2 linked regions of the Homo sapiens genome follow. The protein of the gene in region 1 purifies or fractionates together with the protein of each later gene. This does not show direct contact. Each region holds a gene or a part of one and is shown on either strand. Other genes may lie near its edges.

Evidence for each region.
Region 2: the proteins of EIF3C (region 1) and EIF3B purify together in Homo sapiens (affinity purification with mass spectrometry; 10 studies listed by BioGRID and IntAct, with this or other methods). This does not show direct contact.

Annotation. Positions count from the first base shown.
Region 1 is NC_000016.10:28,714,444-28,721,465, reverse strand, and holds part of EIF3C (eukaryotic translation initiation factor 3 subunit C), read right to left. Parts: coding exon 7,020-7,022; intron 6,831-7,019; coding exon 6,776-6,830; intron 6,648-6,775; coding exon 6,538-6,647; intron 6,160-6,537; coding exon 6,032-6,159; intron 3,191-6,031; exon of another isoform or gene 434-3,190; intron 1-433. UniProt on the Homo sapiens protein: Component of the eukaryotic translation initiation factor 3 (eIF-3) complex, which is required for several steps in the initiation of protein synthesis.
Region 2 is NC_000007.14:2,350,700-2,357,848, forward strand, and holds the start of EIF3B (eukaryotic translation initiation factor 3 subunit B), read left to right. Parts: upstream 1-4,127; 5' UTR 4,128-4,222; coding exon 4,223-4,721; intron 4,722-7,149.

The DNA.
Region 1 (7,022 bases):
TACATAGTTAAGAGACTAAAAACTCATTATTGAGAGACACCAACGGAAGTCAGGCCTAACTACACTGCAGAGGACCACACCATTTTCCCATGCCTTCCCAACCACAACTACTGATGGAAAGCCCTAGATGTATACCCTTGCTTAGGATCCTAACTCGGACATTCAGTCTCACTAGAGATCCTGGGGTTCACTTAAAAAACAAAAACAAAAACAAAAAAACGCCTCCAGAATCAGGTAACTCTTAGAAGTAGACAGCAGCTCTGTAAGAGTTCACAGGTCGCTGGGCGCAGTGGCTCACGCCTGTAATCCCAGCACTTTGGGAAGCCGAGGCAGGCAATCAAGAGATAAGGAGATCGAGACCATCCTGGCTAACACGGCGAAACCCCGTCTCTACTAAAAATACAAAAAATTAGCCAGGCGTGGTGGCACGTGCCTGTAATCCCAGCTACTTGGGAGGCTGAGGAGAACTGCTTGAACCAGGGAGGCGGAGGTTGCAGTGAGATGAGATTGCACCACTGCACTCCAGCCTGGGCAACAGAGCAAGACTCCATCTAAAAAAAGAAAAAAAGAAAAAGAGTTCACAGGTCAATCATGACATCAGGTATAGATGAACTTCCCCCTAATACCTTCAGATCACCATAAGACAACAGATGGCCTTATCCCACATCAAAGAGGCTGAAGCTCATGAGAATAAACCCACTCCTTTACAAGCTTGTTTTGACCAAAAGATGAAGGCTGAGAAATGCTGATGATGGAAAGGGTATATTTAGACTGGCTGAATCTGGAGTTGCTGAAAACCCTTACTGGCAGAGGGCCTATCGTGTTTTCTAGAGCATCCACCAACCCTGGGTGGCATACTCAAGGAGAGTTAATATCAGAGTTTACACAGAAAAACGGGCAAACAGAATCCACTGTTCTGTGGTTTTGCCCTCTCTCCTTGTTCCTCTTTCTCCTATATAAATCCTGCTTTTGCTCGGTTGGAAATTAATCTGAAAATCTGTCTCCCTTGTTACACAAGTGAAATAGTGTCTGTGAATTATTCTTCTACACTACAAAGCCACAAACTCTCAATGTCAAAAAGATTCTGACACTTGAAATTCTAACTTTATTTTCTCAAGGGTTTTCCTCAGAACATTGATTCAACTAATTTTAGACTATTCTGATTAGGTATACAAGTTAGTTTACAGGTTAACAAAAAAAAATTTGGCTGGGTGCGGTGGTTCACGCCTGTAATTCCAGCACTTTGGGAGGCTGAGGTGGGCAGATCACGAGGTCAGGAGATCGAGACCATCCTGGCTAACACAGTGAAACCCCGTCTCTACTAAAAATACAAAAAAATTTAGCTGGGCATGGTGGCAGGTGCCTGTAGTCCCAGCTACTCAGGAGGCTGAGGCAGGAGAATGGCGTGAACCCGGGAGGCGGAGCTTGCAGTGAGCCGAGATTGCGCCACTCACTGCATTCTAGCCTCGGCAACAGGCTAGTGTCTCAAAAAAAAAAAAAAAAAAATTCAAGAATAACCTCTAAAAGCATAGCACGTCTAACTCCCAAACCAGCAGAAAAAAACAAAATGAATAATAAGAAAATATATATAACTAGAAACGGGGAAAAAAAAAAGAGGATGAGAAAATACATGTAGGCTAGGTGTGGTGGCTCATGCCTGTAATCCCAGTACTCTGGGAGGCTGAGGCGAGCGAATCATCTAAGGTCAGGAGTTCAAGACCAGCCTGGCCAACATGCTGAAACCTCATCTCTACTAAAAATATAAAAATTAGCTGGGCGTGGTGGTGCTCACGTGTAGTCCCAGCTACCCAGGAGGCTGAGGCCTGAGAATCACTTGAACCCAGGAGGCAGAGGTTGCAGTGGGCCAGGATTGCACCGCTGCATTCCAGCCGGGGCAACACAGTGAGACTCCTTCTCAAAAACAAAAACAAAAAACACACAAATAAAAGAAAAATAAAATACAGGCTGAATATCCCTTATCTGAAATGCTTAGAACCAGAAGTGTTTCAAATTTCAAATAATTGCATATATATAATGGGGTATCTTGGGAAGGGCTCCAAGTCTAACTATGAAATTTGTGTGTTTCATCTACACCTTATACAAACAGCCTGATGGCAATTTTACATAGTATTTTAAATAATTTTGTGCATGAAACAAAGTTTTGACTGCAACCTGTCACATGAGGTCAGATGTGGAATTGTCCACTTATGGTGCTCCAGAAGTTTCAGACTTTGGAATTAGAGATGCCCAATCTTTAGAAGACAGAATGAATTTCAAAATAATTATGATTAAAGAAACTACCCCCTCCAAATTATATACCGTTGATTCCATTTACATAAAATTCTAGAAAATGCTAACTTACCTAGTGACAGAAAGCAAATTAGTGGTTGCCCAGGGATAGGGTGAGGAAACTGAGGCAGGGAGAAGTATTACAAAGGGGAAGGTGGAAATGTTTAGGTGTGAAATTTTTAGGATATTATGTTTTGATTGTGGTGAGTTCTATGGGTGTAAACATATGTCACAACTTATTAAATTTAACTTTAAGGCTGGGTGCGGTGGCTCATGCCTGTAATCCCAGCACTTAGTGGAAGGCCGAGGCGGGTGGATCACGAGGTCAGGAGATCGAGACCATCCTGGCTAACATGGTGAAACCCTGTCTCTACTAAAAGTACAAAAAATTAGCCAGGCGTGGTGGCGGGTGGCTGTAGTCCCAGCTACTCAGGAGGCTGAGGCAGGAGAATGGTGTGAACCCGGGAGGTGGAGCTTGCAGTGAGCCGAGATTGCGCCACTGCACTCCAGCCTGGGCGACAGTGCAAGACTCTGTCTCAAAAAAAAAAAAAAAAAAAAAAAACTTTAAACAAGTGCAGTTATTGTATGTCATGTACACCTCAATAAAGCTATTACAAAATTTAAAATAAAGAGGATAAACAGAAAGTATAAGATACCATAAAATGGTAAGAATAAATGCATTGATAACCACAATAGGCTGGGCGCAGTGGCTCACGCCTGTAATCCCAGCACTTTAGGAGGCCCAGGCAGAAGGGTTACTCGAGCCCAGGAGTTCGAGACCATCCTGGGCAACAGGGCAAGACCCCATCTTGATAAAAACTAATTATGTAGACACATATATAAATAACCATCATATATATGTAAATAACTATAATAAACGTAAATGAACTAAATTGCCAGAGAAGCAGAGATCAAGTTCTGGCGGTCATTGCACAATGTGAACGTACTAAATGCCACTGATTTGTATACCTGAAAATGGTTAAAATGGGAAATGTTATGTATCACAATAAAAGAAAAAAAAAGCAGAGATTTTATGAGATTAAAAAAAAAACAAACCAAAAACCTAGCTGTGCTTAAGAGACACTCTTTTTTTTTTTTTTTTTTTTTTTTCCTGAGACGGAGTCTTGCTCTGTTGCCCAAAGCTGAAGTGCAATGGCGCGATCTCGGCACACTGCAACCTCCGCCTCCCGGGTTCAAGCAATTCTCCTGCCTTAGCCTCATGAGTAGCTGGGACTACAGGCGCAGGCCACCACACCGGGCTAATTTTTTTGTATTTTTAGTAGAGATGGGGTTTCGCCATGTTGGCCAGGCTGGTCTCGAACTCCTGACCTTGTGATTTGCCTGCCTCCGCCTCCCAAAGTGCTGGGATTACAGGCGTGAGCCACCACGCCCAGCCAAGAAACACTCTTAATCATACAGCATGGCAGAGTTAAAAATAAAAGGACAGGAAACGTCCTTTTCATAAACATCCTTTATCAGGTAGAGGGAAGCTCCCTTCTATTCCTAGCTTCAGTCTTTTATCATGAAAGAATATTAGGATTTTTTTCAAATGCTTTTTTTTGCATCTGCTGAGATGACTCTACGGCTTTTGTCTGTTATTCTATTGATATAGTATATTAGTTGATTTTCATATTAAAACATCCTTCTATTATTGGGATAAATCCTCCTTGTTATTAAATTTTTTTTTAAAACTTTTTTGGGAGATGAGCCCACCCATCCTCCATCCCCCTACAGGCAAGGAGGGGGTGCTCCCATATAATCCTTATTGTATGTTGCTGTGTTTGGTTTTCTACTATGTTGTTAAGAACTTTTGAGTCTGTATTTATAAAAGTATAGCTTTATAGTCTTAGAGTTTTTTTTGTTTTGTTTCGTTTTCTGAGACAGAGTCTTGCTCTGTCGCCCAGACTGGAGTGCAGTGGCACGATCTCGGCTCACTGCAACCTCTGCCTCCCAGTTCAAGCGATTCTCCTGCCTCAGCTTTCCGAGTAGCTGGGACTACAGGCGCCTGCCACCATGTCTGGCTAATTTTTTGTATTTTTAGTAGAGACTGGGTTTCACTGTGTTAGCCAGGATGGTCTCGATCTCCTGACTTCGTGATCTGCCCGCCTCGGCCTCCCAAAGTGCTGGGATTACAGGCGTAAGCCACCGTGCCCAGCCTTGATGTCTTAAGTTTAATTTTAGGCCCCATTTGCTCCCTCAGACAGGAGCCTTTGTGTAACACACATGTGCAGTGCACATCACACACCGGAGTCCACACAATGGGAGACTTCAATACACAATTATTCAAAGACAAAAACACAAAGTACAGTAGATATAAAAGACCTGAACCAATAGTAACGCTGATAGTTCTGTAAGATGTCAACAGGTTAAAAAAACGAGTTTCATGATCAAGCAAGTTTTTGAGATGGTTAATAAAACAAAGTTAGGTATATTTATTCTCATGGAACTTTCCAGAGGTGGTTGTAAACCCTCCAAGAAGGGGTGTGATAGACAATGTGGCCCAGACCTTGACCAGTGTTCCCTGAAGCACTGGACAAAAAAGGCCTTCTCAACAAAATGCCCACCAAGTAAGTTGTTCAGCCTCTCTAGACCTCTAGAGGGCTGGAAACTCACTACCTCCCTAAAGCAGCACGACCACAACTTTTAAACACAGGAAAGCAACCTTGAGAGCAATAATCTTCCCATTAAAAGGGTACTATTTGTCTGGGTGCAGTGGCTCACGCCTATAACCCCAGCACTTTGGGAGGCTGAGGCGGGAGGATCGCTTAAGCCCAGGAGTTCAAGATCAGCATGGGTAACATGGTGAAATCTTGTCTGTATTAAAAACACAAGAATTAGCCGGATGTACTGGAGTGTACCTGTAGTCCCAGCTACCCAGGAGCCTGAGGTGGGAAGATCACCTGAGCCCAAGAGGTTGTGGTTGCAGTGAGCCAAGATTGCATCACTACACTCCAGCCTGGGAAGAGTGAGACCCTGTCTCAAAAAAAGCACTTTTTATCTGTAGTTTGTGCAAACTGGCTAAGAAAAAATAAATAAAAGCACTATTTTTAGTGAGCTTGAGATTTCACTCCCATGGGATACAAAAGAGCAGGTATCACTTTTACTTCAAAGGGAGAAACTAAGACTTAAGGTCAAGTAACTTATACAATGTTGTACAGCTGATAAAGGCTGGGAGACAGAATCCACACTGGGATCCTCCCCTATTCTGACTGTCCCAGTAAAGGTCATGAACACTTGCGGCAGTCTGTATGCTGTATGTGTACTAAGAAGTTATCAGGAAGGGTAACACAGTAGCAACGCACACTGAGGGCTCACCACACGTCAGTCCTAGATGAACTACTTTCTTACATCACACCTCCCTGTATTCCTGCAGCTATTCTGGAAGGGAGGGTTCCCTGCCTTATTTTACAGATGAGAAAACTGAAGATTAGACAGGCTAAGTAGTTTGTCCAATGTCACACAGGTATCGGGTGCCAAAGTGAGATTTGCACCCAATCCACACGCAGTGAGTAAGGCTGTGGGTAAATATTTGGACTCTGGAGCCTTCAATTCTCATCTTTAGGACACATTAGCTTCGTGACTTTAGCCAACTAATGTACTTGACTCTCTGATCCTACTGTAAAATGCTAACAGTTGGCTGCTCCAACCTAAAAGGACTCCATGGAAGAATCAATAACCTTCCAGACAATTAAGAGCTTTCCACCAGTTCCAGTGTAACCCTAGGTCCCACTACTTTCCTTACTTTTTAAGAAATCTTGAGGCCAGCGCGGTTTGTTTCCCTTCTTCCTCCTCTGAGTCGGAATCGGAAGATGTGGAACCTGTGTCCCAGTCTTCATCATCTTCGGAATCTTCTGAGTCCTCATCTTCATCCTTAGAGGGAAGAAAAGAGGATCAGCAAGAAGACAGGGAGATTGACTGGTGTCTCCTCCTTACTAACGCATGTTCGAGATTTATTTACATGAGTAGAACAAGAGCAGCTACTCATGGAATCAAGATACCAAGGGCTGGGACTCACCATCAAGTCCCAGAGTGATGCTGCAATTTGGCCGCAGGAACACACACAGCTTCCCCTGGCAGAGCTGGGCCCAGATCCCTGTTTGCCCACTGCTCTGATGTAAGAGGAAGCTTGTTCTCAACTCCACTAAATTCCACCCCTCCCAACCCTAGGGGTTTGAGTCTTGTCTTTTTCCCCCAGGGACTCAGGAACTACCTCTGGCAGGAAATCATCCATCTAACCCTGGCTCTTACATCCATCTTTTTGAGGAACTTGCGACTCTCCCCAGAAGGAGCTTCTGATTTCTTCTTCAAGAAAGTTGCAGCACTGACTCCGTCCTCATCCTCATCCTCATCTGAAGAGCCTAGTGGTAATGGAGGGAGAAAAAGATCCTGAATGTTGAAAAGCCAGACTGGAGGGCAGCCAAGAAACCAGGCGAAGGGCAACACTAACTCTGGACTTCCTATTTGCAACAAAGGTTCTTTGGCTCACCTTCTGAATCCTCCTCATTTTTCTCAGCATCTTCATCCGCAGACTGCTCGGGGTTCTGGACAGAGAGGGAAGTGAGAGAACAATCATGGACGCTGTCCAGCCATCAGCCCACCCCACCCCTCCACCCCAGACAGTTCTGTCATCTTCCTGCTCCAGTCACACCTCCCACTAGCAATTCCATCTTTGGGCCTCAGTCACGGGGTCACTGTTCCCAGTTCAGTAAGTGTGCCTCTAGCCTCCCCACCTG
Region 2 (7,149 bases), on another chromosome or scaffold:
GCAGTGGCACAACCTCGGCTCACTGCAGCCTCTGCCTCCTGGGCTCAAGTGATCCTCCTGCCTCAGCCTCCTGAGTAGCTGGGATTACAGGCGCCTGCGGCCACACCCGGCTAAATTTTGTATTTTTAGTAGAGATAGGGTTTCACCATGTTGGCCAGGCTAGTCTTGAACTCCTGACCTCAAGTGATCCTCCTGCCTCACTCTCCCAAAGTGCTGGGATTACCGGTGGGAGCCACTGTGCCTCGCTCTCTAAATAAACAATTTAAAAAATTAGCCGGGCACAGTGGTGCACGCCTATAGTCTCAACTACTCAGGAGGAGGCGGCGGGAGGATCACGAGCCTGGGAGTTTGAGGCTGCAGTGAGCCATGATTGCGCCACTGTGCTCCCGGCCTGGGTGACAGAGTGAGACCTTGTCTCAAAAACAAAAAGAAAAAAATCTACCCCTGGAAGCACAACACAGGCCACGCTGCAGGTCAGCCTGGGAGCCTCATCCGGCCATCTCTGCTGCCAGGGTTGGTGCGGTGCCTCAGGTTTCCCACTCCTTCACCTCAGAGGCTCAGAAATAGACCAGCGGAGGCCAGGCCTGCTGGCTCATGCCTGTAGCACTTTGGGAGGCAGAGTTGGGAGAACTGCTTGAGCCCAGGAGTTGAAGACCAGACTGAGCAACATAGTGAGACCCCATCTCTACAGAAAAACAAAAAGGTAGCCCGATGTGGTGGTGTGGATCTGTACTACCAGATACTCAGGAAGCTAAGGTGAGCCTGTGAGACTGAAGCTACAGTGAGGTGCGACGGCACCACTGTACTCCAGCCTGGGTGACAGAGTGAGACCCTGTTAAAAAATAATAATAGGCCAGGCGCAGTGGCTCACGCCTGTAATCCCAGCACTTCGGGAGGCCAAGGCGGGCGGATCACGAGGTCAGGAGAGTGAGACCATCCTGACTAACAGGATGAAACCCGTCTCTACTAAAAATACAAAAAATTAGCCGGGTGTGGTGGCAGGCGCCTGTAGTCCCAGCTACTCGGGAGGCTGAGGCAGGAGAATTGCTTGAACCCGGGAGGTGGAGCTTGCAGTGATCCGAGATAGCACCACTGCACTCCAGCCTGGGCGACAGAGTGAGACTCCATCTCAAAAAATAAATAAATAAATAAATAAAGATAATAATAAAAACAAAAAATCGAGTAAGTTTTTGTTGTTGTTGTTGGTTTTTTTTTTTTTTTTTTTTTGAGATGGATTTTTGCTCGTTGCCCAGGCTGGAGTGAAATGGTGCAATCTCCGCTCACTACGCCCTCTGCCTCCAGGGTACAAGTGATTCTCCCGCCTCAGCCTCCTGAGTAGCTGAGATTACAGGCATGTGCCACCATGCCTGGCTAATTTTTGTATTTTTAGTAGAGATGGGGTTTCACCATGTTGTTCAGGCTGGTCTCGAACTCCTGACCTCATGTAATGCATCCGCCCACCTTGGCCTCCCAAAGTGCTGGGATTACAGGTGTGAGCCACCATGCCCGGCCATAATTTCCTTCTTCTAATAAGGACATCAATCACTGATTTAGGGTCCACTCTCGTCCACTTTGACTTCATCTTGATTACATCTGGGAAGACTGCTTCCAAACACAGTAGCCCCCCCGACCCCCAGTTTCACATTGCACTGTTTCAGTTACTTATGGTCAATTAGGTTGGAAAATATTACATAATGAAGAAAATTTGACAGAGAGAGACACAGACACACCACCAGACACCACATCCACATAACTTTTATGACAATATATTGTTATAATTGTTCTATTAGTTATTGCTGTTAATCTCTTACTGTGCCCTATTGTAAGCATGCATATGTAGAAAAAACATACTCCCAGGCGTATTGGCTCACACCTGTAATCCCAGCACTTTGGGAGGCCGAGGCAGGCGGATCACAAGGTCAGGAGATCGAGACCATCCTGGCTAATACGGTGAAACCTCGTCTCTACTAAAAAAATACAAAAAAAATCAGCCAGGCGTGGTGGCGGGCACCTGTATTCCCAGCTACTTGGGAGGCTGAGGCAAGAGAATGGCGTGAACCCGGGAGGTGGAGCTTGCAGTGAGCCGAGATCGTGCCACTGCACTCCAGCCTAGGCGACAGAGCAACACTCCGTCTAAATAAAAAAAAAAAAAATTGTCATCCCTTATTGTACAGATGCGGAAACTGAGGTGGAGGCATTAAGTGACCTGCCCAAAGATACACCACTGACAGCATGATGAGGAGTAGTCAAACCTGGTACTAGGCATGGGAAGACTCTGCTTCTTTTTCGCTCTTTTAAACACCGTTAGGATGGGATGGGTGTGGTGGCTCATGCCTATAGTCCCGGCACTTTGGGAAGCTGAGGGAGGAAGACTGCTTGAGGCCAGGAGTTTGAGACCAGCCTGGGCAACACAGTGAGATGCTATCTACAAATAAAGAAATTAGCTGGGCACGGTGGCACATACCTTCAGTCCCAAGTACTTGGCAATGTACTTAATGTCACTGAACTGTACACTAAATTGCATATTAAAATGGCTAGGCCCTGCGCGGTGGTTCACGCTTGTAATCCTGGCACTTTGGGAGGCTGAGGTGGGAGGATTCTCTTGAGGCTGGAAGGTCCCGATTGCAGCGGCGCTGTGATTATGCCACCGCACTCTAGCCTGGGCAACAGAGCGAGACCCTATCTCTGAAAACAAACAAAACAAAAAAACTATAGGATGAAATATACATAAAATTTACCTTTTTGGCATTTTATTTTATTTTTTCGAAGACAGGGTCTCGCTATGTTGCCCTGACTGGTCTTGAACTCTTGGGCTCAAGTGATCCTCCTGTCTTGGCCTCCCAAAGTACTGGGAAGAGAGGTGTGAGCCACCGCGCAGGGCCTAGCCATTTTAATATGAAGTTTAGTATACAGTTCAGTGGCATCAAGTACATTCACCATGTTGTACCATCACCACCGTCATCTCCAAAACGTTCTCATCCTCCCAAATTGAAGGTCCGTCCCCGATAAACACTCCCCACTCTCCACCCCAGCCTCTGGGTACCACCTGTTTTATTTATTTATTTAATTTTCGTAGAGATGAGGGCTGGCGTGCGGGGGGTGGTGGTGCTATGTTGGCAAGGCTGGTCTCCAACTCCTAAGCTCAAGCGATCTTCCCACCTCAGCCTCCCAAAGTGCTGGGATAACAGGCGTGATCCACTGGGTTGTTTTCTAGGATGATTAAGACATCCCCCAACCAGTGGTTGTCCTCCACTCCGGCAAAAAACAAGATAGAAGCCACATGCACCCAATGCCCGTCCCGTGAGCACCCGCGCAGAGCGAACCGCTCCGGTCCCTCCGGAGTCAGCCTCGAGCTCCACGCGGCGAGGACCCGCCCCCGCCCCCACGTGACCCGCGCTGTCCCGCGCTGAAGGCGGCGGCCTCGGATGGACTGAACCACTGTGAAAGCCCGAATGGGGGGAAACAGGCAGTGACGGCCGCTAGGGAAGGACTGGGGGTAAGCGATTAAAGAAACTTCCATACATTTTTGTATCGCGCCAGGCAGTCGTCCTTCTAGTCGTGTGGGCCCTCTCTGGCTCGCCCCGAATTCCTTTTCTATTTTGAAGTAGTCTGTCCTTTTGCTCAGTCAGTAGGCGAGTCCAAGTGACAGACACGGACAGGGGGGACTTTAGTAACGTAAACTAAACGGTTTCCCTAGCGAAAGGCTCAGACGCCCTGAGCAATCGCCTGTTGAGTCTCCACTCTTCCAGGGTATTAACTGTTGAGTTAGAGGACATTTTCCTAGCATTCCGGGTACTAAAATCATTTCTTGTCCCCGCCTTCAGCTCCACAAATAGTTCAGTCCCGCCCCGCAGCGTCCGACGGGAAAGGAAAGGGGGAGGACGCCATGTTGGACGGAACCATCTGCTGCCACACATGGGGTGGTCAATGCTCCCATGAGTTTACTGATGCACAGAAACAACCTTGCTGAATGGAATTAAGCACTTTCTTGTCACAAATATATCAGTTTGATGATTTTCGGGCGCGGTCTTGTGGATGCGAGTCCTCTCAGGGTCGTTCGTGAGGCCCCAGGGCGTGGGTGCGCCCCCCGCCCCGCGGCCTTGGTGCGGCCTCCCCGTCGCACGCACATGGCTGGGCTGTAGCCGTCGCGGCGCGCGGTGCGGCCTGGGAGAGTCGGAAGCGCGGCGGCCGCGGAGCCCTGCGAGTAGGCAGCGTTGGGCCCATGCAGGACGCGGAGAACGTGGCGGTGCCCGAGGCGGCCGAGGAGCGCGCCGAGCCCGGCCAGCAGCAGCCGGCCGCCGAGCCGCCGCCAGCCGAGGGGCTGCTGCGGCCCGCGGGGCCCGGCGCTCCGGAGGCCGCGGGGACCGAGGCCTCCAGTGAGGAGGTGGGGATCGCGGAGGCCGGGCCGGAGTCCGAGGTGAGGACCGAGCCGGCGGCCGAGGCAGAGGCGGCCTCCGGCCCGTCCGAGTCGCCCTCGCCGCCGGCCGCCGAGGAGCTGCCCGGGTCGCATGCTGAGCCCCCTGTCCCGGCACAGGGCGAGGCCCCAGGAGAGCAGGCTCGGGACGAGCGCTCCGACAGCCGGGCCCAGGCGGTGTCCGAGGACGCGGGAGGAAACGAGGGCAGAGCGGCCGAGGCCGAACCCCGGGCGCTGGAGAACGGCGACGCGGACGAGCCCTCCTTCAGCGACCCCGAGGACTTCGTGGACGACGTGAGCGAGGAAGGTGAGGGCGCCCGGGGCGGGGCTGGCGAGCGGCGCGGGAGCGTGGCTGGGGTTCCCGAGGTGGGAGATATCGTCGGGCTGTGCCACCGGTTCGTGCAGAAGTTCCAGCGAGGGTGTCCGTGTGTTCCTGAGAAGCCACCGAGGGAGGGGTTCCCGAGTGCCCTGGAAGTGTTCTGAGAGCCCAGCGCCTCCCCTTTTCTTTCCTGAAAAAGGGGACAGGGTGGAGCTCACTTCGGGAGCCAGGCATTTGCATGACAACCAGAAATCTGAGAGGGTGGGAGAGGGCACATGGGGTACTCCGTTATGGCTGGGTGTGCTGTGAGTGTAGCAGCTGGGGGTACGGCAAAAACCGAAGACCCGGTGGCAGGTTTGCGGGTCTACGTGTCCCCAGAGCTGACCAGTCAGACCTCCCAAGGTCTGGATCGGAGGAACAGCTTGTGGCAGAGCCGGTGATTTTGTCCTCCTGCCCCTCAGAATTGTCCATCTCCAGAGACTTCCTTAGTGGGACAGGCACCCTGTGAAATTCCAGTTTGATTTTTCTTTATCTCTTGCGCTAAATCTATAAAGAGAGTTATTTTTCCAGGTTTTAATATTGCCGATAACAGCCAGCTTTGCCTTCATCTCAACCTTGATTGGATTTACAGGCATATTTTTGCTTCCTGTCTCAGAGATTTTTTCCTGAAGCTACTTCTGATGAGAGCTGGTCTCATTTGTTTTTCTTTTGTTTTTTAGCTCTCTTAAGCCTTTAAGTTGGGAACACATCAGCCTCTGCAGATTGGCTAAGTTGATACTAGAGTGAGAAAAATAAAAATACCCTTGCTGATGTAGCCAGCGATACACCAGGACAATTTCGGGAATAACATGGAGTTGCCAATTTATGATTTAAACGTATTTTTAAAAGGCTATCAGAGGGCCGGGCTGGGTGGCTCACGCCTGTAATCCCAGCACTTTGGGAGGCCGAGACGGGTGGATCACGAGGTCACCATCCTGGCTAACACGGTGAAACCCCGTCTCTACTAAAAATAAAAAAAAATTAGCCGGGCGTGGTGGCGGGCACCTGGATTTCCCAGCTACTCTGGAGGCTGAGGCAGGAGAATGGTGTGAACCTGGGAGGCGGAGCTTGCAGTGAGCCGAGATCCTGCCACTGCACTCCATCCTGGGCGACAGAGCAAGACTCCGTCTCAAAAAAAAAAAAAAAAGAAAAAGAAAAAAAGGTTATCAGAAATACAAGTCAGCCAGGTGTGCTGGTGCACACCTGTAGTCTCAGGTACTTGGGAGGCTGAGGCACGAGAATCACTTTAACCCAGGAGGTGGAGGTTGCAGTGAGCCTAGATCCCACCACTGCCTGGGCGACAGAGTGAGACCCTGTCTCAAAAAGTGAAAAATTAAAAAATAAAAACGCTGTCAGTTACTGTGACCATTACTATATTACACTTTTTTTTTTCATAAAAGACATTTTAGCATGAAAAGCAGGAAGGACACCACAAACTAAAGACTTTGGGAACATCTAGTCTACGCCCCTCAGTCCTGAGGAAACTTGTCCCTGAAGGTGGAGTAGGCTGCTGAGAATTCCCAGTGGGTCTATACTGCTTGGCCCACCAGACTCTCCTGCTCAGAACAGTGTTCTTTCTAACGCTTCAATTGTTATTATGGTTTAAAAATCAAAACTTTTGGTTTAATGATTATTTTGAGCCCTTGGATATTCTGCTACTTTTTTAAAAAGCATTATTTGAGCCCATCGAATTCACAGATTTCTAATACGTAGATTACTTCTGGAATTGGGAAGAGTCAGAGGATGCTAATATGACGACAGGGTTGGCCAGGCTGGGTGACGGCTGTGGGTCCTCAGCGGGCCCACGTGGCCCTGAAGGTGCAGTGTTGGCCAGAGTGACAGGTGAGGCATCTGGTCCTGAGGACTAAGGCTCAGGAAGCCGACTTTGTCATGGCCCTCCTGGTTGTGGTAACGCAGGTTTTGTGCTTTATGAGAAGAGCTGCCCTTCAGGGTCATTGTGCAAGACCGTAGGTGACTGTATCAGTTCTTTCCAGAAGGGCCAAGTCTTCCAAGGAGCAGGCCAGAGGTGGCCTGGAGTCCCTGTCTTGCTTTATTACTTTTTTGGTACAGATTAGCTTCTCAAACTGTAATCATCCTTTCAGTTTAATGTTTCAGCTGATCCAGGATTTTAACTCTAAATGTCTTTTTTGGCTCATTAACTATTCTTTCTCTTTCTATTTGCTATTTAGTGTTGAGAATTGTTCTCTTCTGTTTTTCCTGGAGACCGCTTGGGAATCCATGAGCCACGTGTAACCGATGCTTGGGCTGAGAGTGATCAAGGCGTTGTGTCTTCATGGTGTAGTTACTTCATTTATTTCCTTCCTACGTGTGGGCAGTTTCTCCTAGACTAGACGCTTTGAGCTTGTGGGAAGGAGTA